7 linked regions of the Homo sapiens genome follow. The protein of the gene in region 5 purifies or fractionates together with the protein of the main gene of each other region. This does not show direct contact. Each region holds a gene or a part of one and is shown on either strand. Other genes may lie near its edges. The genes, in order: COX4I1, ESR2, ABCE1, NTRK1, NIPSNAP2, SCARB2 and LARS1.

The links.
Region 1: the proteins of NIPSNAP2 (region 5) and COX4I1 fractionate together in Homo sapiens (co-fractionation; one large-scale study listed by BioGRID). This does not show direct contact.
Region 2: the proteins of NIPSNAP2 (region 5) and ESR2 purify together in Homo sapiens (affinity purification with mass spectrometry; 2 studies listed by BioGRID). This does not show direct contact.
Region 3: the proteins of NIPSNAP2 (region 5) and ABCE1 purify together in Homo sapiens (affinity purification with mass spectrometry, with the first as the bait; one large-scale study listed by BioGRID). This does not show direct contact.
Region 4: the proteins of NIPSNAP2 (region 5) and NTRK1 purify together in Homo sapiens (affinity purification with mass spectrometry; 2 studies listed by BioGRID). This does not show direct contact.
Region 6: the proteins of NIPSNAP2 (region 5) and SCARB2 fractionate together in Homo sapiens (co-fractionation; one large-scale study listed by BioGRID). This does not show direct contact.
Region 7: the proteins of NIPSNAP2 (region 5) and LARS1 purify together in Homo sapiens (affinity purification with mass spectrometry; one large-scale study listed by BioGRID and IntAct). This does not show direct contact.

What each region holds. Positions count from the first base shown.
Region 1 is NC_000016.10:85,805,132-85,807,568, forward strand, and holds the end of COX4I1 (cytochrome c oxidase subunit 4 isoform 1, mitochondrial isoform 1 precursor), read left to right. Parts: coding exon of another isoform or gene 1-22; intron 23-601; coding exon 602-733; intron 734-1,324; coding exon of another isoform or gene 1,325-1,371; exon of another isoform or gene 1,372-1,606; coding exon 1,607-1,743; coding exon of another isoform or gene 1,744-1,856; 3' UTR 1,857-1,937; downstream 1,938-2,437. UniProt on the Homo sapiens protein: Component of the cytochrome c oxidase, the last enzyme in the mitochondrial electron transport chain which drives oxidative phosphorylation.
Region 2 is NC_000014.9:64,277,372-64,280,871, forward strand, and holds part of ESR2 (estrogen receptor beta), read right to left. Parts: intron 2,783-3,500; coding exon 2,610-2,782; intron 1-2,609.
Region 3 is NC_000004.12:145,101,311-145,104,810, forward strand, and holds part of ABCE1 (ATP-binding cassette sub-family E member 1), read left to right. Parts: intron 1-3,075; 5' UTR 3,076-3,102; coding exon 3,103-3,205; intron 3,206-3,500. UniProt on the Homo sapiens protein: Nucleoside-triphosphatase (NTPase) involved in ribosome recycling by mediating ribosome disassembly. Able to hydrolyze ATP, GTP, UTP and CTP. Splits ribosomes into free 60S subunits and tRNA- and mRNA-bound 40S subunits.
Region 4 is NC_000001.11:156,859,594-156,863,664, forward strand, and holds the start of NTRK1 (high affinity nerve growth factor receptor isoform 2 precursor), read left to right. Parts: upstream 1-1,271; 5' UTR 1,272-1,341; coding exon 1,342-1,553; intron 1,554-4,071. UniProt on the Homo sapiens protein: Receptor tyrosine kinase involved in the development and the maturation of the central and peripheral nervous systems through regulation of proliferation, differentiation and survival of sympathetic and nervous neurons.
Region 5 is NC_000007.14:55,974,585-55,978,084, forward strand, and holds part of NIPSNAP2 (protein NipSnap homolog 2), read left to right. Parts: intron 1-3,500. UniProt on the Homo sapiens protein: Protein involved in mitophagy by facilitating recruitment of the autophagy machinery required for clearance of damaged mitochondria.
Region 6 is NC_000004.12:76,168,825-76,172,324, forward strand, and holds part of SCARB2 (lysosome membrane protein 2), read right to left. Parts: intron 1,162-3,500; coding exon 1,043-1,161; intron 1-1,042.
Region 7 is NC_000005.10:146,176,151-146,179,650, forward strand, and holds part of LARS1 (leucine--tRNA ligase, cytoplasmic), read right to left. Parts: intron 1,516-3,500; coding exon 1,397-1,515; intron 1-1,396. UniProt on the Homo sapiens protein: Aminoacyl-tRNA synthetase that catalyzes the specific attachment of leucine to its cognate tRNA (tRNA(Leu)).

The sequences.
Region 1 (2,437 bases), on a different chromosome or scaffold from region 5:
GCCCAGCAGCTCTCGGAAGCGTGTGTGTGACAGAGCCTCTGCTCACTTCTGGGCCTACTGTCTAGAGGCAGTCTTGCACAGGAGGGTTGCTCTGCTGGGTTTCGGGGTCACTGTGCCAGGGCCCCAGTTTATGTGCTCACCAGTCACTTAGCTCTGCCAGCTGACAGGATCTTTTGCTAGGCCCCCTTCTCTGTGCTGAGTGGAGGTAGCCTCTCAGCATATCTGCTGGGTAAGACATAGTTAACTGTAAATTATTGAAAGAAACTCAGCAAAATGCATAGTGTTTGGTATGAAAGGGGCAGAAAAATAACAAGATTAAATAGACCCTAATACTGTAATTCAAGTAAGAAATAATTTTGCAGTTTTAATTTGCACCTGAAGCGAACTGTATGCATTTTCTTCTTTCCTTGCCCTGTCACATGCCTGCGTGGGCACGTGTGTGCACGTACGTGCGTGAACATGATGTGGCCTGGGTTGGTGTATCCTTCAGCTCTGTGTTTCCTCCTTCACAAGTGTGGTTTTGGGGAGAAGTGGTTGAATGTTGCAGAGGAGGGAGCTGCTGACCTTTGTGCCTGTAAATGGCTGTCCTCTCTGCCCCCAGTGTATCGCATTAAGTTCAAGGAGAGCTTTGCTGAGATGAACAGGGGCTCGAACGAGTGGAAGACGGTTGTGGGCGGTGCCATGTTCTTCATCGGTTTCACCGCGCTCGTTATCATGTGGCAGAAGCACTATGGTGAGTAGAGAGGGAGGAAGGCATGGGCGCCTGGACTGGGGCTCCAGCCTGCAGTGCCCATTGGTGGGCTGTCGGGGACCTCCATACCTTGAGGCTATGAGATAGGGACTGCATTCCAGAGTTCATCTCAGGATTGTTTCCAGGCCTTGGTGACCTGGAGAACTGAAGTCGTGGGAGGTTAGTTTATAAGCCAGCATCTGATTATTCATAGCCATGCTTGTTGGGTGGTGAAATACCTTAACTACTTTGTACAGCACACCACGTTTTCAGTAGCAATTTATGTGCTCACCAGTCACTTAGCGAAAGATGACTTCGTGAAGGTTCGAGCAAGGATAAGGGGACTCATTCATTGAATGACTGTCTGGACTGTTGTGAGGACTGCATCTCAACAGCCAGCATCTGGGGGTCCCGACCTGATAGTTTGTGTGTGGGCATTGCCGGGTTGCTCGCTCGTGGTAATGACTCTTCCCCGAGGTTCTTTCTGTCCAGGCAGAACAGGCATTTTTGCATTCTGAATAGGTATATTCTCGTACTTTTGGTTTGAATGTGGATGTGGGTTAATAACAGACCCGAATCTATTTGATCTTCCAGGTCACCTTGGGCTCTGTTTGTCAGATCCTGTTATCCATAGCCTTTAGAGAGGACCTTCTGCTTTTAGCTTATTTTGTTGCTAACTTTTTACAAACAAAGGGCTAATTTTAAAATGTCAGTGTTGTCAGTGGTCAGAAACCGTGTGTTTGAGCGGGTGTTGAGTGGCAGGTGGCTCTGCTGACCTGGTGGCTGGTGTGTCGGGAGGATTTAACCTGTGTGAGGGATTGGCCTAGAAACAACCTGTTGAGATAGTCTTGCCCCATAACCTGTCTCACACCGTAGTGTACGGCCCCCTCCCGCAAAGCTTTGACAAAGAGTGGGTGGCCAAGCAGACCAAGAGGATGCTGGACATGAAGGTGAACCCCATCCAGGGCTTAGCCTCCAAGTGGGACTACGAAAAGAACGAGTGGAAGAAGTGAGAGATGCTGGCCTGCGCCTGCACCTGCGCCTGGCTCTGTCACCGCCATGCAACTCCATGCCTATTTACTGGAAACCTGTTATGCCAAACAGTTGTACCACTGCTAATAAATGACCAGTTTACCTGAAACCCTTTGTGATCAGTTCTTTAATGATACCTAAATGAAAGCTAATTAAAACAATAGGTTTCTCCCAAGGGTCTGGAGTAAATATATTTTGGGTGCAAATGAAATGGCAAAAATCTAGTATCTTAAATTGTATAAGGGGACATTATATAAAAACTGAAAATATAGAATTCCTTGATGTAGGAAATTTGAGGTTTTTGGCAAGAGATCTTTATATAAGTAAAATCCCATTATCGTAGGCACACCGGCAGGAGTTACCACAACCCTTTTTTTTTGTTTTGGGAGACGGAGTCTTGCTCTTGTCACCCAGGCTGGAGTGCAGCCGCACAATCTTGGGTCACTGCCACCTCCACTTCTCGGGTTCAAGGGATTCTCCTGCCTCAGCCTCCCAAGGAGCTGGGATTACAGGTGCCTACCACCACGACCAGCTAATTTTTGTATTTTTTAGTAGAGACGGGGTATCACCATGTTGTCCAGGCTGGTCTTGAACTCCTGACCTCAGGTGATCTGCCCGCCTTGGCCTCCCAAAGTGCTGGGATAACAGGTGTGAGCCAGTGTGCCCGGCCTATGA
Region 2 (3,500 bases), on a different chromosome or scaffold from region 5:
TCCCAGCACTTTGGGAGGCCGAGGCGGGCGGATCACAAGGTCAGGAGATCGAGACCATCCTGGCTAACATGCCGAAACCCTGTCTCTACTAAAAATACAAAAAATTAGCAGGGTGTGGTGGCCAGCTCCTGTAATCCCAGCTACTTGGGAGTCTGAGGCAGGAGAATGGTGTGAATCTGGGAGGCAGAGCTTGCAGTGAGCCGAGATTGTGCCACTGCACTCCAGCCTGGGTGACAGAATGAGACTCCATCTCCAAAAAAAAAAAAAAAAAAAAAAAAGTTACATGCAAGGAATTTCTCAATACTGTACCATCCTGGCCTATTTGAGACAATTTTAAAAATAAGTGGCCACTTTCAGTTACTGTAATGCACTTATATCAAAGACAGGAAGCATGCAAAGAAAGGATCATTTAGGCACTACAACTGTACAACTGTAACAGCTTTAACTCTTTCCTCTTTGCACATTTAGAATTTGACATTCCTGTCTGATGCAGCAGGAAGGAAGAAACAACATAGAGAAGCAAAGGAAATTTACTTTCAATTGTTATTAGCTGTAGTCTCAGGGGTCAAAGATGTTTCAAGCAGACCAATGTTTCCCCAAAAGCAAAAAAAAAAAAGAAGGATCTCTTTTTAAAAGATATGGTTAGTAGTAATAGGTCCAAACGTTCTTAAGGGGTAAAATCCTAGAAACTCAGCAAGATACAAAATAGTCATCGTATCAAGAATTCAGTTCAGAATTTCAGAAAATCAATATTGTTCTTATCATATAGCCAGGAAATGGACTTGGCCTTATAATCTACTGTTAAGATTGTCACAAATAAAATATTTGAGCACTGAATATGTTTTCATATAATCAACCTTATTTCATCTTTAGAAAATCCCTATGAGTATCTCCATTTCACAGAGGAGGAAACAGGCTAGGAGGTGAAGTCGCAGAGCTAGTAATTATAAAATCCAGGACAAAGAGGCTGCCATTCATACAGGGTGAATTTCAGGGGACAGGTAGGAAGGTGACTACCAACATTTCACTCCTCACCATATCCTGGATTCTATCAGTATTTCTCTGCTTAAGGTAAAACATCCTCTTAGAGTTATCAATGGGTGAGTTAATTTAGTAAATTGCTATTTGCCATTTACACACTATGAATTCTCTCAACGTTGCTTTTCTTAACTGGCAAAGAACAAAGCATTGGGGCTTTGATAGAAAAAGGAAGGGAGCTTTCAGATGGAAACATAGGGTGTTGCCTGGGAGGGAGCAGTTGAGGGACAGGTTATGGGGCAAATAGAGAAAACAAGAGTAAGCAAGAAAGTGACTTCAGCAAATCAGGGCTGGTACGAGAGAAGGAGTGTAGCAAAGACACATGCAGGGAGATGAGCTGACCAGCCTTGAAATCAGGGGTGCACAACTTGAAGTTTATAAACCAAAAAATAAAATTCTAAGGCCCCTCAACCATCTGAATGGGTCCCTCCTCTTGGCCAAGGGCATTACAAAGTTAACCTGAAAAATAAGTTTAGGCCATGATGGAACAAGGGAGACAGACATGGTTCATTATACCCTCCCTCCCCTTTTGGAATCACTGATAGAACAGACCCTTTAAGACCCCTAAGAAATATTTACAATCTATTCTCTCTGAAGCCTGCTACCTGGAGGCTTCATCTGCATGATAAAACCTTGGTCTCCACAATCCCTTATTGTAACCCAATCATTGCTTCCTACTGATAATAATTCTTTCAATCAATTGCCAATCAGAAAATCTTTGAACTGCCTGTGACTTGGAAGCCCCTGCTTTCAGGTGTCCTGCCTTTTCAGGCTGAATCAATGTACATCTTACATGCATTGATTAATGCCTTATGTCTCCCTAAAATGTATAAGACCAAGTTGTGGCCTGACCACCTTGGGCACATGTTCTCAGATCTCCTGAGGGCTATGTCACAGGCCATTTGTCACTCATATTTGGCTCAGAATAAATCTCTTCAAATATTTTACAGAGTTTGATTCTTTTCATCAACAAGTTGATTTAAAAAAAAAAATCCAGAAGGCGTTTAGAGAAAGTTAGGGAAATAATCTAAACACAGCCCAGAAAACAAGGGGATTGTGAACTGAGACCCTCCTAGCCTAGGGGAAGAAATGTGTCTAGATCAATTCTCAAAGTCCACTGTAGCTGAATTCCTGATTTCTGACCATTTCCAAAAAATGTGTTTATTCTTTCTTCCTCAGGAGCCAGCCCACCATCATGACTGTTAAGCATGCTATATATTAAATTTAAGTAAAAGAAAGAAACAATCTTTGCAACTCCTTGTGAGCACATTTTTTCCAAGAGACATCTTCACAAGGTTGTAACTCGATGTCTTCTATCCAACACCCATGTGGGTGAACGAGGGGTAAGACCCATTCGAGTTGGCTGTATAATCTTGGGGTTCTGGGGTAGAAATCTGCAATTCCACCCCACCACCCAACCCACTTCCAAACACACATGATCCTCTGAACTGCTCATCAAATACTTTGTGTGCCAAACAGGCCAGTAGTGACATTTCTGCCAAGTCATCTCTGCAAAATTGTTTGAAATCAAAAGTAGGAAACTAAAGAAGCAGTTAACAATTCTCTTGTACCTTGAATGCTTCTTTTAAAAAAGGCCTTACATCCTTCACACGACCAGACTCCATAGTGATATCCCGATGCGTAATCGCTGCAGACAGCGCAGAAGTGAGCATCCCTCTTTGAACCTGGACCAGTAACAGGGCTGGCGCAACGGTTCCCACTAACCTTCCTTTTCAGTGTCTCTCTAGGGAGCAAAGAAAATATCCATTGAACAGAGCATAAAAGGGAAAGGAAGGGCTTTCTAGGAAAAAAAAATAGCATGAACATTGCCTAATTTAATCTCTTTTTCCTCCAGGGTTCCTGGTAAATATATTCCCGGAAATCTGATACAGCAAAGCTTTTGATACTGATATCATATCTACAAAGAGCCACGCTGTGGGGAATGACTAATGTTTGAAAGTGGGTAGGTGAGTTTATGCCCATCCACGTGATGCTGATGAGCATTTGTCACTGCCGAAGACCAGTCATAGCCATGGGGTGGGAGCTACATCTCTAAGTGTAATGAAAGGAGTGGCCAGATCAAATCTTACCCACAGGTCTGAACCACAGGCAGGATATGCATTGGTCTTCTGTAGTTACTAGAGTTCACGAATGCTGCATGGATGGGTGTGAAGGCATTCAACCACTTCCAAACATCAGTCATTCCCAACAGCATTGCTAAGCAGCCCTTCAGACATTTGAAGTTCCCATTTAAATGGAGAACAAACATCTCACACTCTGCAATTTCAGATAAAGGTCTAGATTTAAAATAACTTTCAGGTTGGGCGCAATGGTTCATGCCTGTAATCCTAGCACATTGGGGAGCCAAGGTGGGCGTATCACCTGAGGCCAGAAGTTCGAGACCAGCTTGGCCAACAAGGTGAAACCCTATCTCTACTAAAAATACAAAAATTAGCCAGACA
Region 3 (3,500 bases), on a different chromosome or scaffold from region 5:
CATGTGCTAGGAACAACAAAGAGCCAATGTAGCTGGAGCCATACAAGAGCTAGAGTAGTTGGAGATGAGATCAGAAAGTTAACAGAGGCTGATCAATGCCTCATTGATTATTTTCAGGACTTTGGCATTTACTCAGATTGAGAATGAAGCCATTGCAGGATTTTAAATAGAGGAGTGACATGATCTAGCTTACTCTTTAAAAGGCTTCCTATGGTTCCTGTGTTGAGAATGAACTGTTGAGGGTTAGAGTAGAAAGAGGTGAGGGTAAAAGCAAAGAGATCTGTTAGGAAGCTATTTGAGTGATGCTGGTAAGAGATGATAGTGATAGCTTACACCAAACTCATGAGATCAGATTCTGGATGTTTTATAGCTTCAGTGGGATTTGCTGTTATTAGGTGGAAAAGAAAATGACTTCAAGGATTTGGGCCTGAGCAAATGGAAGACTGGAGTTGCCATCTAACAAAATGGGCAAGACTGCTGAAATTTTGGTGAGGATATCAGGAGCTTAGTTGGGAGATTCCTCTTAAGCCTTCCAGAGATGTTAGGTGGGCAGGAAGGGTTCAAGAGAGGTATGCTGACTAAAGATAGAAATTTGGAAATTTGCAGTATATAAATGGAATTTAAACCTGTGAGACCAGAATAGAACAACTTGGGGAATGAGTATATGTGGAAAAAAATGACCAAGTCTTAGAGCACTCTGCATTTAGAAGCCTGGGAGATGAAGATGAGTGACCAGGAAAACAGTAGAAAAACCAGATTAGTGTTGTATCCTAAAACCAAGTTAAGAAAGGGTTTTTATCTAGTAGGAAAAGTGTTTATTTGTGTCAGATGCAATTGATTGGTCAGGTGAATTAAGGTCTGATAACCATTTGTTTTAGCCATGTGAAGAACAATGATGGCTCGAAAAGTTTTGATTAAATGATGGGCTCTAGAGCCTAGAATGGATTCCAGAGAGCATGTAGCAAGAAATTTGAGACATTGAGTATAAGCAACTCTTTGAAGTAGTCTTGAAGAAGGAAAAATAAAACAATGGGAGACGATGGGGTCAGATAATAGAATGCCTGAATGCTGATAAGAATGAGCCAGTGGAGAGAATAATTGATGAAGTTAAAGACAGAAGGGAGAATTGTTGGGACATTCTTATGGAATGTCTTCTAGTGTACAAATGGTCTTAGCCAGGGAAATACATACAGTGTCATTGCTGGTTGGCATAAGGGTCCATTTGAGATGATGAATTTAAAGGGAGACTAGTCAGCAGGTTTTGTGTTTTTTTTTCACCTACCATTTTCAGCTCTATGTGTGCAGGTGAAGAGTCGAATTTAACCAAGATTGTGATTTAGGGTATTTTAGCTGGGTGAGAAGGAAAATAAAAACACCAAGAGCTGAGGGACAGTGGAAATATGATAGAATCAAGAGATAATGAAAGGTTTGAAGAATGGAGGAATCAGAGTTGTTGGATTGTTGTGTAGTAGGGGGTGAACTAAAAAGATAAGAATGGTGGTTGGAGAATGGAGTATTTGAAGTTGAGGTTATAGAAGGATTGCAATTACTGGTAATGATAAGGTCTAGGATGTAACCAGAAAAAATGAATGGCTGTGGTAAGGTAGAAGACAAGCTGTTTGAGGAGAGGGGTTAAATGAGAGGACAGGAGGGTCATCTGTGAGCATATTGAAATCGAGAACTATGTCAGGAGTTGTAAAAGAGTGTGTGAAAGTTAACAGGGGCTGAAATCTTCAAAGAATGAAAGGGAGTGATCTGGTGGTCACTACTAACTAAAGCAGTTAGATAGTTGAGATGCAAAACTTTTTAGGGAGGAGGGAGAGATAATAGTCTAGGACAGCGTCGAGGAGCAAGATCTCTTATCCCCATCCAAGCCTAATGATATTGATGGGTGTGAAAAAGACTTGAGATGTCTACAAAGGGAAGCAGTCTATTAAAAAAAATAAAATAAAATCAAGATTGATTATCACAGTAAGAAAAAGACAACATGATCTCTTTCTAAATGGATAATCTTGGTTTCAGATTCATTCATTACATATTGGAATAAACTTGAGTATTAAGGCACCTTTTGGAATTTTTTACTTTAATCACCATTCTAAGGAAATTAATTTCTGAACCACTAAGCCCAATATTGTGAAAGATTTTTAAGTTAACTTTGATCTTAATGCTGTGTAGTTGATTAAATTGGAATATCAAGACTTATAAAAGCTTTAAAAGTGAGCATAGTATATACATATAGTTATTTGGTCTCCTTTTAATTTCATTGCTATTATGATTATTTGCCATTTCTGTCAGTGTCATTATAGTCAGATGTACACGACGTGAAGTAATGCTTAGTTTGGGGGAAGAGCTTGTGGGATTTCCCCCATCCTGCTTCCCCTTTTTCAGTTTTCCTGGCTATTAATAATTCTTTTTCCATTAGAGCTTTAGATTTGCTTTGTCTGGGTTGGTTGGGGTTTTTTTTTTTTTTTGAGACTGGGTCTGACTCTCATCCAGGCTGGAGTGCAGTAGTGTGATCTCAGCTCACTGTAACCTCCACCTCCTAGGCTCAGGTAATCCTCCCACCTCAGCCTCCGGAATAGCTGGGACCGCAGGCGCACACCACCACATGTCTGGGGTTCTTTTGTTTGTTTTTTCTCATGAGATTGAATTAAATATATAAATTCAGGAAGGGTTTAAATCTGTGATATTAACTATTCTTTATTATAAAAACTGAGATAGCATGTCATTTGTTCAGGTCATTTATATCATTTGGTGTTGTTTTAAAGTTTTCTTGTGTATATATCTTGTTGAGTATATTCCTAGATATTTTCTTTTTGTCGCTATTGTAAATGACATTTTTTTCTTTCCTTATATAAATCTTCTGATTAAAGTATATATGTAAAATTTGATTTTCCCAACCTTACTAGATTATAGATTATTTTACAATTTTTACATTTGTCAAAATTTATATTTTTTTTTTGCAGATAATCATTTCATCTCCATATAATGATCATTTATGTTTTCCTGTCTTTCATGTATGCAAATTAGTTCCCTTAACTAATGGCATTAAATTTGTTGATTTTTCTTTCATAGAAGAGCTGGATATTCTTTCGCCCAGTTATGGCAGACAAGTTAACGAGAATTGCTATTGTCAACCATGACAAATGTAAACCTAAGAAATGTCGACAGGAATGCAAAAAGAGTTGTCCTGTAGTTCGAATGGGTAAGCTGTTCTGTGGATCATTTAAGTATAAAAGAAAACCATGAAAGAAATCAACTGGTTTGATAATTCTTTACGGACATTAACATAAACTTTGTGTTCACCATTAGTTTCATAAAACTGTGAAGACAAGAAAAGTAGTTTGTTCTAAATTTCTTTTATTGCTTTGTGACTGAAGGATCATATTTTTTAAAGAAAGACCAAATTTTAGAATAATACATCAATATTTAAAAGTGTATTGGATGTGAACTCAAAGCAGAGTTCAGCTTACTGATCTTGAAATCTACAAAATCTTATA
Region 4 (4,071 bases), on a different chromosome or scaffold from region 5:
CCGTCACCGCCTAGTCCCTTGGTTCTGACCAAGATCCCGAGGAAGAAGGCGATCACTGTGTAGGGCTCTGCCTCCGTCTGGTCACCTTCTTGAGCTCAGGCTGCTCGGTCGGTCTGTGTGTCCCTGTCTCGGGGACTTGGGGGGCCATCCGTGCTGGGGCCTTGGCGGAGAGAACCGTGAGCCTCTAGGAGGTCGTCCTTCCCCCGCTCCCTGGGGCCTTGCCTGTCTCCCCGCCAAGAGACACCCCTCTTCCCTTCGCTCTCCCCAGCTTGAGACGGATGGGTTAGTGCAGCCACGGAGGCTTGCGCGGTGGGAGGGGTTGGGACCAGCCTTCTGCTGCCCTGGGTGCTGGGGATCCCGGGGCTTTCCAGGTGCTCGGCCTCCAAGGTGCGCGGTCCTCAGCTCCACCCGCGGGCGGCTCCTGCGTCCGAGGAGCTAAGAGAAGATCTATTAATTTCTTCACGAATAAATCGATGCTCTTGTCAGGGAGGCGATCGATGTCAGCCCTGCCCTGCCTTGCCCTATCCTGCCCCGGGGCCGGCGCTGGCTGGCCGGGGTCAGGGACTGAAGCTGAGACCTGAGGCGTTGCTCACTGGGGGCTGCAGATCGCACCCCCAGGCACCCAGCGCGGGCGGGGAGCTCGCGCCTTTGCGCGCGGGCTTCTCGCGCCACCCTGTGGCTTCTCTTGGAGGCGCGGTCTTGGCTCTCCGGACTCCCTTCGGCCGGATTAGGCGACCCCTTCCCTTTCTCTGCCCCGTCTGTGTCTTCCTCCCCAGGTTCTGCGATTGATCCTTTGGTAGTCCTTTTCGTTTTCTTCCTAGAGTTCGGAGAATGTTCTACCTAACTTACTCCAAGTGACATGCTCACTCCCCTAGGCACGCGCGCCGCGAGGATGGAGCGCTGAGCCTGGGGCTGGCTAGGATGACCTGGACAGCAACCTTTCCTCAACGCAGTCATCTTCCCTCCTCCCCAAATGTAAAAATGCAGCTGCTTTAAGCTGAGAGAAATAACGTATCAGCTTCCCACCTCCGGCCTCAGCAGACACCTCCGAGGCGTTCTGCTGCGGCCCCTCAGCGTCTGCCGGAGCTGAGGCGGATCCTCGGGGAGAAGGCTGACGCTGGGGGCCCCTAACAGGGGAGGGGGCAGAGGGGGGGGCGTCAGAGAGTAGGAAGCGGGTGGAGAAGAGGGGCAAGGCGGGGCCGGGCGGGGGCCGCTGGCTCCGCCCTTTCCTGGCGGCTGGGTCTTTAACACCGCCCAGCGCACATGTCGGGGGAGGCCTGGCAGCTGCAGCTGGGAGCGCACAGACGGCTGCCCCGCCTGAGCGAGGCGGGCGCCGCCGCGATGCTGCGAGGCGGACGGCGCGGGCAGCTTGGCTGGCACAGCTGGGCTGCGGGGCCGGGCAGCCTGCTGGCTTGGCTGATACTGGCATCTGCGGGCGCCGCACCCTGCCCCGATGCCTGCTGCCCCCACGGCTCCTCGGGACTGCGATGCACCCGGGATGGGGCCCTGGATAGCCTCCACCACCTGCCCGGCGCAGAGAACCTGACTGAGCTGTGAGTGTCCGGCGGGCGGTGGGGGGGCGCGGGGACAGGCAGGCATTGCAGTGCCCCGAGGGCGCGGACTCGCTGCTTGTTTGCTGGTCAGGCAGGACGAGCACGGCGGAAGGCTGGCACCACGCAGCCTTCGGCGCTGCCCGGGCGTTCCTCCGCAGCCGCCGCTGCCCTAGCAAGCTTTATGGTCAGTGCCTGGATGTCCCCTAGTGTTCAGGGCAGCTGGGCCGCCGGCTTCAGGGAGATCGAAGGGGGAAATCTCCGTGGACCAGGTCTGAGAGAGCCTAGCCGTCTAGAAGGCGCTTTCTGGAGCTCAGCCAGAAGCCCCTGCTCTGTCCTACAGAGAAGGATGGTTACCAGCAGAGAAGTCCCCAGTTTGTCACCCTTACTGCCTTTTTCCTTTTCTAGGGGCAAGCCAGCCCCCGCCCACTTTCTTGTTATGAGGAGGCAACCCTAGCTTTTCTTCTGGAATTGGGGATTGAGCTGGCTGGCATTGGTGGGAGGCGGTGAGGAGCTGAGTGGTTGAGCTCTCCTCTTTCCATTTTTACCATTCCTTCCCCCAGAACCCGTTGATTTGGATCTGGGAAATGGGACCCCCTCCTGGATTTTCTCTCCCCACTCCCATCTCCCTCTCCAACCTTGTCTCTCTACCTGGGGCGGGGAGTCAGGGCCCTTGCTGAGAGACCCTCCTCCCTTTGGTACACGAAGCTGGGAGGAATCTTCAGCATTCTGCAGGACTCTGACATTCTGCAGGAATTGGTTACAAAATACTCAAGTACTTTTTAGCAGCTGGTGAAACCTATGGGAGTATGCGGTAATGACTGGCCTGGAGGTACTCAGGCATCATATGGTGATGGCTGGAAAATACTTGAATATTACATATGGCTATCATGGCCAGCAAGACATCTAGAAGAGGGGAGAACTGCTAGAAAATCCTCCTCCTGTGGCCTGGGGTTTCGAGGGTGGACAAGGAACCTTGGCCTTGTGCTGTGATGGGCTGGAAGGTATCCGAGGTGAGGATCATCACTGTCTGGAAGTTACTTGAGCAGCTTGCAGTAATTGGCACTGAGTTCCTTGGGTATCTCATGGTAATTAACGGGAAGGCACTCAATCTCTCTCTCTAATAGCTCTAGGGAGACCAGGAGTAGAGGAGATGGCCTTGTCTTGGTCTAGGCCTAGGTCTCTGCATGATGGGAGGGGGCATGAGAGACAGGTTGCCAGTCCTAGTCCAGTTCTCTCATCACCCTGGGCCTTCAGATTGGGGTCCAGACTCCTGAGTGCTCCCCATCAGGGCTCGTGTTTCCCAACTCTTTCCAAGCCCCAAGTGGGTCCAGCAGGGTAGGGATGGGAGTGGTAGGGGGAGTGGACAGGCCAGAACTGGGGACTAGCAAGCATGTAGGGTGGTGAGCTGAGATGTCCCCCTGGGTGGGGCTGCAGCCTGACATCCCCCTCCCCACTGCCTGCACAGCCCCCTCCCTCCTCACTCACCCGCAGAGCTAACGAGGAGATAATGGACTCGAATAGACAGATTGATTATGAATCCAAACGAATGAGGCAGCTTTGAGGCAGCTTTGAGCACGCTGGCCTGACAGCTCCCACACACCCTGCCAGCCCACTGCATTCTCACCCCCTCCCTGGGTCCCTACAGCTTGAAACCCTCTGGGCAGGGGCTGGGGGGTGGGTAGAATAGGGACTTGGCCTCCCTCGGAGTCAGTGGAGGTTACTTTATAGGCCTCTACTAAGTCCACAGGGAAACTTAGGACCTGATCCTGGCTGTCCTGGTGGGGCCAAGGCTGGGAAGGGAGGAAAGGAGGAAGGGAGGGGTCACTTAGGCTGGTCCTGGTTCCTATAAGTTAGGGAAAGTTAGAGGGTAGAGGGGGAGAGTTCTGAGAACCGTCAGTGAGTCAGGGGCCCCTGGCATGTGTATTGTTGGGGTGGGGGGGGCACACTAACATGTCACTACAGGGCAGCCGAGTTCTCAGGAACTCCCTGGTATGTCGGATCCAGCAGCTAGGCAGGCCCCAGGGCGTCAGCTGTCCCCTAGCCCCGAATGCCTACTCATTCTTCTTTCTTTCTTGTCTATCTCGCTTTCTGTAGCTCTCTGTCCTTATCTGTCTGTCTCCCTCCCCTTATCTGTCTTCCTTCTTGCCTGTCACTATCTCTCTGACCTCTTCCTGTCAGTTTCTCTTTCAGTGTCTCTGTTTCACTCTCTCTTTGTTTTTCTGCCCGTCTGCCCCCACCCTCCTCGTTGAGCCTTTCCATCTTTCTGTCTCTCTCTCTCTCTCTCTTGCTGTGTAAGTCAGCCAGTCTGTGCCTCTTCTCCCCTCCTCGACACTCTGACTGCCTCCTCTCATTGCTCCTCTCCTCTTTCCTGGGTCCCTCCTTGGGGTCCCTAACTGATAGCCTGTAAGACTCTTGCTTGATCTGCTGAAAAGATGGTAGGGGAGGTTTCGGTGGAGTAGGGGTTGCTGCTTGGGTGTGAAGAGGGGCCAGAGGCTATGGGGGTGCAGAGATGTTTGTG
Region 5 (3,500 bases):
ACGCCTGTAATCCCAGCACTTTGGGAGGCCGAGGCAGGCGGATCATGAGGTCAGGAGATCGAGACCATCCTGGCTAACACGGTGAAACCCCATCTCTACTAAAAATACAAAAAATTAGCCGGGTGTGGCGGCGGGCGCCTGTAGTCTCAGCTACTCAGGAGGGTGAGGCAGGAGAATGGCGTGAACCTGGGAGGCGGAGCTTGCAGTGAGCCAAGATCATGCCGCTGTACTCCAGCCTGGGCAACAGAGCGCGACTCTGTCTTAAAAAAAAAAAAAAAAAAAAGAAATACTGTTGTAGAAAATCATCTAGTGTTTCTAAAGAGATCCCCAAGAAGAGGTTCACACTGGCCCATCAGCATCTGGACTTTTATGTCCAGAAGCACTAAGATTCTGGACATTTATGCTGGCCCTTTGGAATCCCAGTACATTACTGATCTAGGAAAAGGCAGAAAAGATCTATGTGTAGGTCAGTTGGAGAGCAAAAGTAGCTGGGCATGGTGGCTCATGCTCGAAATCTCAACACTTCAGGAGGCCAAGGCAGGAGGATCGCTTGAGGCCAGGAGTTCAAGGCCAGCCTGGGCAACCTGGCAAAACCCATTCTCTATAGAAAATACAAAAATTAACCAGGCATGGTGGTGTGCATATGTTGTCCCAGCTAATCTGGAGGCTGAGGTGGGGGAATCGTTTGAGCTCTGGGGGTCAAGGCTGCAGTGAGCCGTGATCACACCAGTGCACTCCAGCCTGGGCAACAGAGTAAGAGCCTGTCTCAAAAATAAAAAGAGAACAAAAGTATAAAGGGTATGCTGTGATAGACCTGGCCAGAGGTAAGATCACCAATTATAAAAGGGATTGTGCAGAAAGAAGGGGCAGGAATTCAGAAGGCTACCCTTCTGTATGATTCCATACATACGATGTTCTAGAAAAGGCAAAACTGAGGGACAAGGAACACAGCAGTGGTTGCTAGAGATGGGGAGAGGGGTTGATTATAAAAGGATTAACTTCAAGGGGTGAAGAAGCTGTTGTGATGCTGGTTACATTACTTTAGGCATTTGTCAAAACTCAGTACTGTCTGCCAAAAAAGTACATTTTATTGTACATAGATGTGAAAAACCAAGAAGATGAGGGAAACGCTGTTTGTCATTTGATCATGGTTACATAAAGTTCAGAAGAGGGCTGAGCGCAGTGGCTCACACCTATAATCCCAGCACTTTGGGAGGCCGAGGTGGGCAGATCACTTGAGGTCAGGGGTTGAAGACCAGCCTGGCTAACATGGCAAAACCCTGTTTCTACTAAAAATACAAAAATTAGCCGTGCACGGTGGCACACCATGTAGTCCCAGCTACTCAGGAGGCTGAGGCGGGAGAATCGCTTGAACCTGGGAGGTGGAGGTTGCAGTCAGCTGAAATGGTGCCACTGCACTCCAGCCTGGCAACAGAGCGAGATTCTCTCAAAAAAGTGTGTGTGTGTGTGTGTGTGTGTGTGTGTGTAGAAATTGTTCAGATAGTTCAGAAGGTTATACAATGAAAAGAAAAAACCTTTACTCCCACCCCAGGCCCAGTCATGTTCCCCAGATGTCATCACCCTTTAACAGCTCACTCTGTATGTGTATATATAGTGCTGTTCTGTGCCGGCTTTTTTACAGAATTTATCTTGGAGATGTCAGCACATCAGTGCACATAAATCTACCTCATTCTTTTTATCGAGTGCATATTTTCTGACGGGGAGTATTTCCTAATTTACGTGACCAGTCTGCATTAATGGCTATTCAAATGGCCTATGCCAGGAGATAACTGGAAACAAGACAGCAATGAATATTTGTATGCATTCAACTTTGTGCACCTGTCTAAATATAGCTGGCCGTAGGACATAACCGCAAGTGTCATTATTGGGCTGAAGTCATACACAGTTTCCATTTTGATATGGATGATGCCACACTGCCCTCTTGGGAGGTCAACAAATTTGTATTCCTATTAGCTGGCATATGGGAGTTCAACATGCACATAGATATTTGTGAAGTAGGGCCAATTGCAGTGGCTTACACCTATAATCCCAGCACTTTGAGAGGCTGAAGTGGGAGCATTGCTTGAGGCCAGGAGTTTGAGAACAACTTGGGCAACATAGCAAGACCCCATCTCTACAAAAAATTTAAAAAAATTAACCATGCAAGATGACGTATGCCTCTAGTCCCAGCTTCTCAGGAGGCTGAGGTGGGACGATCACTTGAGCCCAGGAATTTGAGGCTACAGTGAACTACAGTGAGCTATCGCACCACCACACACCAGCCTGGGTGACAGGGCAAGACCCAGTCTCAAAAAAAGAAAGAAAAAATCCATGAGTAAAGTATAGTTTGTGACTTGAGTCAAATTTATCCTCACTTTCTGAAAGCATTCACAATAGAAATTTAATTATGAGATGAAAATTAGCAAATTATGTGTTAATAAAGTTGGTATTCTGAGGTTTGTGGGGGCAGTTAAAAAATTTTTGATTTTTAAAGTTAATTTTTACAAATCTTGATTTTTTTTTTGGCCAGGCTCGGTAGCTCCTGCCTGTAATCCTAGCACTTTGGGAGGCTGAGGCAGGTGGATTGCCTGAGCTCAGGAGTTCATGACCAGCCTGGGCAACACAGTGAAACCCCATCTCTACTAAAATACAAAAAATTAGCTGGGTGTGGTGGTGTGTGTCTGTAATCCCAGTTACCCTAGAGGGTGAGGCAGGAGAATCGCTTGAACCTGGGAGGCGGAGGTTGCAGTGAGCCCAGATCGTGCCACTGCACTCCAGCTTGGGCGATAGAGCGAGACTCCATCTAAAAAAAAATTTTTTTTTGATTTTTAAGTTACTTGAGGGGTAAATTTTTTTTAAAGAAAGAATGTATTTCATTTTCCTTGTATTTTTAAAATATTTTTATTGTGGTAAAACATATATACATAAAATTTGCCATTTAAACCATCTTAAGTGCATAATTCAGTGGCATTACTTATATTCACATTGTTGTACAATCATCACCACTATCTGTTTCCAAATCAAATAATATTTTTTAAATTGTGGCAAAATGTACGTAATGTAAAATTCACCATTTTAACCATTTTAAGCATACAGTTCAGTGGCATTAAGTAGATTCACATTTTGGGGAAACATCACTACCATTCATCTTGAGAATTTCTTCATCTTCCTAAACTGAAACTCCTTACCCCAACCTCCCCTTTCCTCACCTCCTGGCAACCTCCGTTCTGCTTTCTGTCTCTGTGGGTTTATCTACTCTAGGTATCCATGTATATTTTTTCTGTGTCAAAAATTGCTTTGAAAAACACATAGTGCAAATTGCAAAGATAAATGTGGGCTCTCTTATAGGAGTGCCACACATTTTACATTTTTCTTTGCTTCTGCTTCTTGGAGTGCATGCTGTTGTCATGGAAAGCAGGCATTCTTTGGTAGCCCAGGTTCTGGAACGGTGCCTAGAATAGCTGCTCACTGTGTTTGCCAGATTAACTGATGGATATATG
Region 6 (3,500 bases), on a different chromosome or scaffold from region 5:
CTAAAAGATAGCCTGTCAGGTCTGGATTTCCAGGCAGTTGTCCAGAGAGCTAAGAAGAGGGTGGTGGTCACTGCCAGAGAGTGGCATCCTAGTATAGGGCCCGCCTAGCGTAGCCATGGGGCACAGCTGCAGCACTTGTCATCCTTAGGGCAGCTCCATCTTTGCACTAAGGTTATAAGACTGTGTTCGTCCCTTGGTGACAAGCACTGCTAACAGTTTGGCTGATCCAAGGGAACTGATCAGCTGATGGCTAAGAGAAAAGGGAGAAAACCACACACGATTTTATTCACCAGAGCATAAGATCACTGGTTTCTCAGATACAAATGCAATGTATGCAGCTAAGAGTGTGAAGTACCCATAAAATACTGTGCTAAAAGAATGTTCTTGTTTTTTTTTTTTATTGGTCCATAATGTTCAAATTCCAAAAATGAAGACATGGTTAGCATGGTTTTTGTTTTTCTCGTCTATGAATACAGGAGTAAATGTGTATTATACACACACACACACACACACACACGTGTGTATGTCTCCTCTATGTATATCTGATACCTTTACAATTAATAATATAATAAACTCTCAAATAACCTGTAGAAAGAAGTTTGCCAAAAGTGACTGAGGTTAATATACATATTCATATTTCAACCAAAATATTCCTGGCAGTGAGGAAGCAAAGGGACATCTTTAACCTTATCGATCTGTGTCCCAAGGGGAGAAATAAATATATGTTGAGGTCCAAGGCTAGCATCAGAAGATTGACCAGGTTATATGGGTACATCAGTAGTTTCCAATAACTGAGTTTTCACTGTTGCTTTTTGTTAAAGGCAGGTTTGCTCGTATTTCTGCTATTCAATCCACAAAATTCAGCCTTCTAATTACAGGGCTATGAGACAATGCCTCCATCAGCACTGAGCTGAATTTCTCCCACTTGAATATGTATATGAAAGTAAGGATATTTTTAAAGAAGGCTCAGGACTAAACTGGTGAACAATGTATAGACAGAATAAAACATATGCTCTTTTACCAGGAGGAAGTATGTACTCACAGGATTAATGTCCACAAATGTCTCATGGTCTTCCTGATTTGGGTGCATGCCTTCTATGGCAGAAACAAACCTCTCATCTGCTTGGTAAAAGTGTGGGAAAGACATAATGATGGGTGCACCTGCATTTGAAGGAAAACAGAAATGAATGATGCTGTTTTTAAAATCTAAGCTGAGCTGAATATAAAAGTTCCTGGCCACAGCCTGGTTCCTAAAGAAAAACAAAAAAGCTACATATAAATTAACTTGGGTAGGCTAAAACACCATCCTTTACCTCCTAGTTCAGGATTTATACTTCATTTTCTGACATCTCATTTACCCCCAATTTTTTATTCCACATTATATATTGAAGTTCAGGCTAAATTATTTATTCTTCAACAAATATTTACTGAAGTTAAAGTATAAGTGCTTCATACACATTATTTTATTTAATGCTCCCAACAGCCCAGTAAAGTCAGAACTATTAGCCTCACTTTGCATTTGAAGAAAGTGAGGTTCATAGAAGTTACAAAATTTACCCAGGGACAGCTAGCCATCAGGCTATGAAGGCAGAATACTAAGTGAATGAAGGGTGTTGTACCTCAAAGCACTAGTTTCAACTACAATTCTCTATCAGTAAGTGGACTGACTTTTTATTTCTTGTCCTTTTTAAAATTAAAAAAAAATTTTTGGTGGTTTTTTGTTTTGTTTTGTTTTGTTTTTACCAAAGACAGGCATAATCTCAGCTCACTGCAGCCTCCGCCTCCCAGGTTCAAGCAATTCTCCTGCCTCAGCCTCCCAAGTAGCTGGGACTACAGGCATGCACCACCACACCCGGATAATTTTTTTGTATTTTTAGTAGAGACAGCGTTTCACCATGTTGGCAAGGCTGGTCTTGAACTCCTTACCTCAAGTGATCTGCCCGCCTCAGCCTCCCAAAGTGCTGAGATTACAGGCTTGAGCCACCACACCTGGCCTACATAATTTTTTAAGAGTTAGCCTGGTTGTGCTATACACCCAGCCTCTAACCAGATCACAAAGATTCTGGGGTTTTTCCTTTCCTATTCATTTTAAGAACCAAATAAGTGCTTATGTAAATTTAAATATATATATATATATATATATATATAACCAAATAGGGAAACAAGTTACTAAAGGAAACCTATTCTAGATCTGGCTATTGAAAAGAAGAGAGGGACCCAACAATTGCTGCCAGGGAAATACATTTTTGGAGAAAGGAGCTTGTCGGCAAGTTATTTAAATTTGCTTACATATTCACCAGCCCATGGCTTAAGGAACTCATCCCTCATCTCTCACATGCACATGCATTTTGCTGTTTACTGCTGAATAGTTCCACAAAGGCATGACTTCCTTCTTTGTGACCTATAATGACCTTGAAAATGTATTTTTTAAATCTGTTGAGGGCTTAATAGGGGCTACTGTCCTGAGTGTTTTATATATATTATTTCTAACTCTCACACAACCTCAAGAAGCTATAACCACCTCCATTTTATTAATGAGAAAACTGATGTCTGGAACCCTCCTTAATAAACTTTGGCCAATTTACCAACAAATAGAATAGGACTCAAACCCAATCTGCCTGACTCCAGAACACTCATCCTGCTATCCAAAATGTTTCCCTGGAGAATTCAAAACACTGGAGGATAATCCTGGGGAGTTTCACTTCAGTCCAAATTCGGGAATACGTTAAGAGGGAAGAGGAAAAGGATTGTAGCAAGAAGTTTAAATGTGTAAAGTAGAATACTTCTGTTGATTCTGGCATCAGCTTCTTAAGGAAACAGAATTTAATAAAAACAGCAAGAGAAAATATATCTACATTTTTGCTTTGAGCCAGATGCACACCAGATGAGGGGGCAGGGACACTGTTTCAGGACTATTACCAGTAAGGCAATGGGGGAGATCACAACCAGGAACTTGTTCCCATTCACCCTTGGTCTTTATCTCCAGGTAAAGGGTACCATGTTCCCTTGCACAATGGTCCCCAAATACCTAGACGCCATCTTTATGGAAATCAGCTGGAGTACTTGTTAAAAGTGTAGATTCTGGGGCCCTGGTATATCCAACATGGGACCCTGGGACATACATGCATGTGTGTGCACCATGAGTGTGTGTGCACACTTGCGCACGTGTGTGTGTATACCTATATATATATACTATATACATATATATTAAAATATAGCAAATATAAGTATATGCAAATATATGCATATTTATATATAACTATAAAATTTGTTAATATACTCATATATTAACAAATATATTAACATATACATACATAAATATATACATGTGGCTGTTAAAACTAGTCTTCAAGATGAAAAATACTTTTGTCAGTTGTATATATATATGTATATATACACATATATATGATATACGTATATATAAACAATTTTTTATATATATATAATTTTTTTGTTTTTTGAGACCAGGTCTCACTCTGTTGCCCAGGCTGGAGTGCAGT
Region 7 (3,500 bases), on a different chromosome or scaffold from region 5:
AAAAAAAGAAAGAAAGAAAAAGGCTAGGCACGGTGGCTTATGCCTGTAATCCCGGCACTTTGGGAGGCTGAGGTGGGCGGATCACGAGGTCAGGAAATCGAGACCATCCTGGCCAACATGGTAAAACCCCGTCTCTACTAAAAATACAAAAATTAGCTGGGCGTGGTGGCACATGCCTGTAATCCCAGCTACTAAGGAGGCTGAGGCAGGAGAATCGCTTTAACCAGGGAGTTGGGGGTTGCAGTGAGCCGAGATGGCGCCACTGCACTCCAGCCTGATGACAGAGCAAGACTGTCTCAAAAAAAAAAAAAAAAAAAGAAAGAAAGAAAAAGAAGATTAAATGAGAGTATACATGTAAAAAAATTTGCTAGCACATTTGCTAGCACACAGTAAGTGTTCAATGTTAACTTACTATTATTGTTGTTACTATAACCGTATTTCTTCAATCTGAAAAAGCACATTTTCTTACATCTCAACATATATGAATCTGGGATATATCTTATAATTGATGCATACATTTATTAAGGCAATGTTTGGGGGAGTTATTTTGTTTTTGTTTTTCCCAAATATCATGTCATGATCTACGTTTGTCTTTAAATCAGTATTATTTTAGTATCAAGGCAATGCAGTATTTATGAAATAATATCTTCAACATTTATACTTCTATAAGCATTAGGTTTACTTGTAAAGAAAAAACATAAAAATTTACATTTTCTGTCTTTGGAGATAATAATCGTCTATGAGTCTAATAGAATAATTTCGTTTTATCAGTCAGCAAAGAAAAAAATCTCAAAACATCCTTCTTTGTCTAAATATTTAAAATACTGTAGTCTTTAAAACAAAACAAAACAAACTTTATTTAGAAAAAAAAATCTTTACAAACCCCATAAGAAAAAAGATCCTAATTCATATGCAGAAAGTGAAAGTCACCTCCTTCACCCTGTTTCAGGCATTATAAATACAATCTACCTTATGGGTTCCACCAAGCTGTTTCTGTACTATAAAGCCAACGGTTTTAGAAATACAATGCACAGGGCCGGGCGTGGTGGCTCACGCCTGTAATCCCAGGACTTTGGGAGGCCGAGGCGGGTGGATCACGAGGTCAGAAGATCGAGACCACCCTGGCTAACACAGTGAAACATCATCTCTACTAAAAATACAAAAAATTAGCTGGGCATGGTGGTGGGTGCCTGTAGTCCCAGCTGCTCGGGAGGCTGAGGCAGGAGAATGGCATGAACCTGGGAGGCGGAGCTTGCAGTGAGCCGAGATTGCGCCACTGCACTCCAGCCTGGGCGACAGAGCAAGACTCCGTCTCAAAAAAAAAAAAAAAAAAATATATATATATATATATATATATAGAAATACAATGTGCAGAACTTCACAAACTATTACTCACCTGGTCTGTTTCTCTAAATTAGATGCATTGACCTCAAACACTCTCTCAGTATCCCATTTCTGTTGGATTTCTTTCTCAATCTTCTTCAAAAAGTCCACTTTGGCTGTTCCTTTTCTTTCCTATTGGACACAAAGAGAATAATCCACTCTGTATTTCAGCACGCTTGCTTTAAAAAAGAATTGGGTTCACAGAACTGAGCTGCTCACTGATAAAGACTGATTTTTCCATGGTTATCTTGAAATTTAAATGAACATTAAAAATTAGGGTTATCAGCCAGGCGCGGTGGCTCATGCGTGTAATCCCAGCACTTTGGGAGGCCGAGGCGGGTGGATTGCTTGAGGTCAGGAGTTCGAGATCAGCCTGGCCAACAGGGCGAAACCCATCTCTACTAAAATACAAAAATTAGCTGGGCGTGGTGGCGGGTACCTGTAATCTCAGCAACTCAGGAGGCTGAGGCAGGAGAATCGCTTGAACCAGGGAGGCGGAGGCTGCAGTGAGCCGAGATCATGCCATTGCACTCCAGCTTGGGTGACACAGCAAGACTCCGCCAGAAAAAAAAAATTAGGATTATCATGACCTGTGTACCTCAAACCTCAAAGAAATGGTTGAACAATTACTGAAATATGTAAAAGGCTTTGATATGCTTTTTTAAAATTATATACTACAATGTAACACTGTCATCAAATGTTTCTATTTAATTAAAATACATGAATATCAAAGATACTGATAGAGAACTTCTCTCCAAAATTGTTAAAGAACTGTTCATATGAAATTTAAATAAAACAGGCTGGACACGGTGGCTCACGCCTGTAATCCCAGCACTTTGGGAGGCCGAGGTGAGAGGATCACCTGAGGTCAGGAGTTAGAGACAAGCCTGGCCAACGTGGTGAAACCCCATCTCTACTAAAAATACAAAAATTAGCTAGGCAAGGTGGCACGCATCTGTAATCCCAGCTACTTGGGAGGCTGAGGCAGGAGAATCGCTTGAACCTGGGAGGTGGAAGTTGCAGTGAGCCAAGATTGCACCATTGCACTCCAGCCTGGGCAACAAGAGCGAAACTCCATCCCCCACCAAAAAAAAAAAAATACCTGGACTCTTTTCAAGTTTCCATAAAACAGTGATTGTATAAGGTATTTTCTTTTCTAAGAAATAATAAGCCTGCACAACTGTTCATCCCTTTCCATTCCTGCTACTAACCACCTTCATTTAGACTATCAACGCCACTGCCCCCTCTCACTTCAAAACCTCTTCTTAATAAGTAACTTGGCTGGATGTAGTGCCTCATGTCTACAATCCCAACACTTTGGGAGGCTGAGGAGGGAGGATTATTTGAGGCCAGGAGTTTGAGACCAGCCTAGGCAACATAGAAAGACCTCCTCTTTAAAAGAAAAACAATTTTTTTGGCCAGGTTTGGTGGCTCATGCCTGTAATCCCAGCACTTTGAGAGGCCGAGGCAGGTGGATCACCTGAGGCTACGAGTTCAAGACCAGCCTGGCCAATATGGCGAAACCCCATTTCTACTAAAAATACAAAAATTAGCCGGATGCGTTGGCATGCGCCTATAATCTCAGCTACTCGGGAGGCAAAGACAGGAGAATTACCTGAACCCAAGAGGCGGTGGTTGCAGTGAGCCAAGATGGAGCCACTGCACTCCAGCCTAGGCAACACAGCAAGACCAATCTCAGCTCACTGAAACCTCCATCTCTGGGGTTCAAGCAATTCTCCTGCCTCAGCCTCCCGAGCAGCTGGGATTACAGGTGCGTGCCACCATACCTGGCTAATTTTTGTATTTTTAGTAGAGACGAGGTTTCACCATGTTGGCCAGGCTGGCCTCAAACTCCTGACCTCAGGTGGTCCACCCGTCTCAGCCTCCCAAAGTGCTGTGATTACAGGCATGAGCCACCCAGCCCGGTCTGTAAAATATAATTTCTAATATTTTTACAGAGGAAAGGACCCACCCACAAAGGCAAAAGTATGTAGGGCCTCATGAAGCCTAGTCATATCTCCTACCCTACGGTCATGGGTAATATGAAATTTCACTGTATTTATGTGTGTGTGTCTGTGTGAGAGAGAGAGGGTCTCCCTCTGCCACCCAGGCTGGAG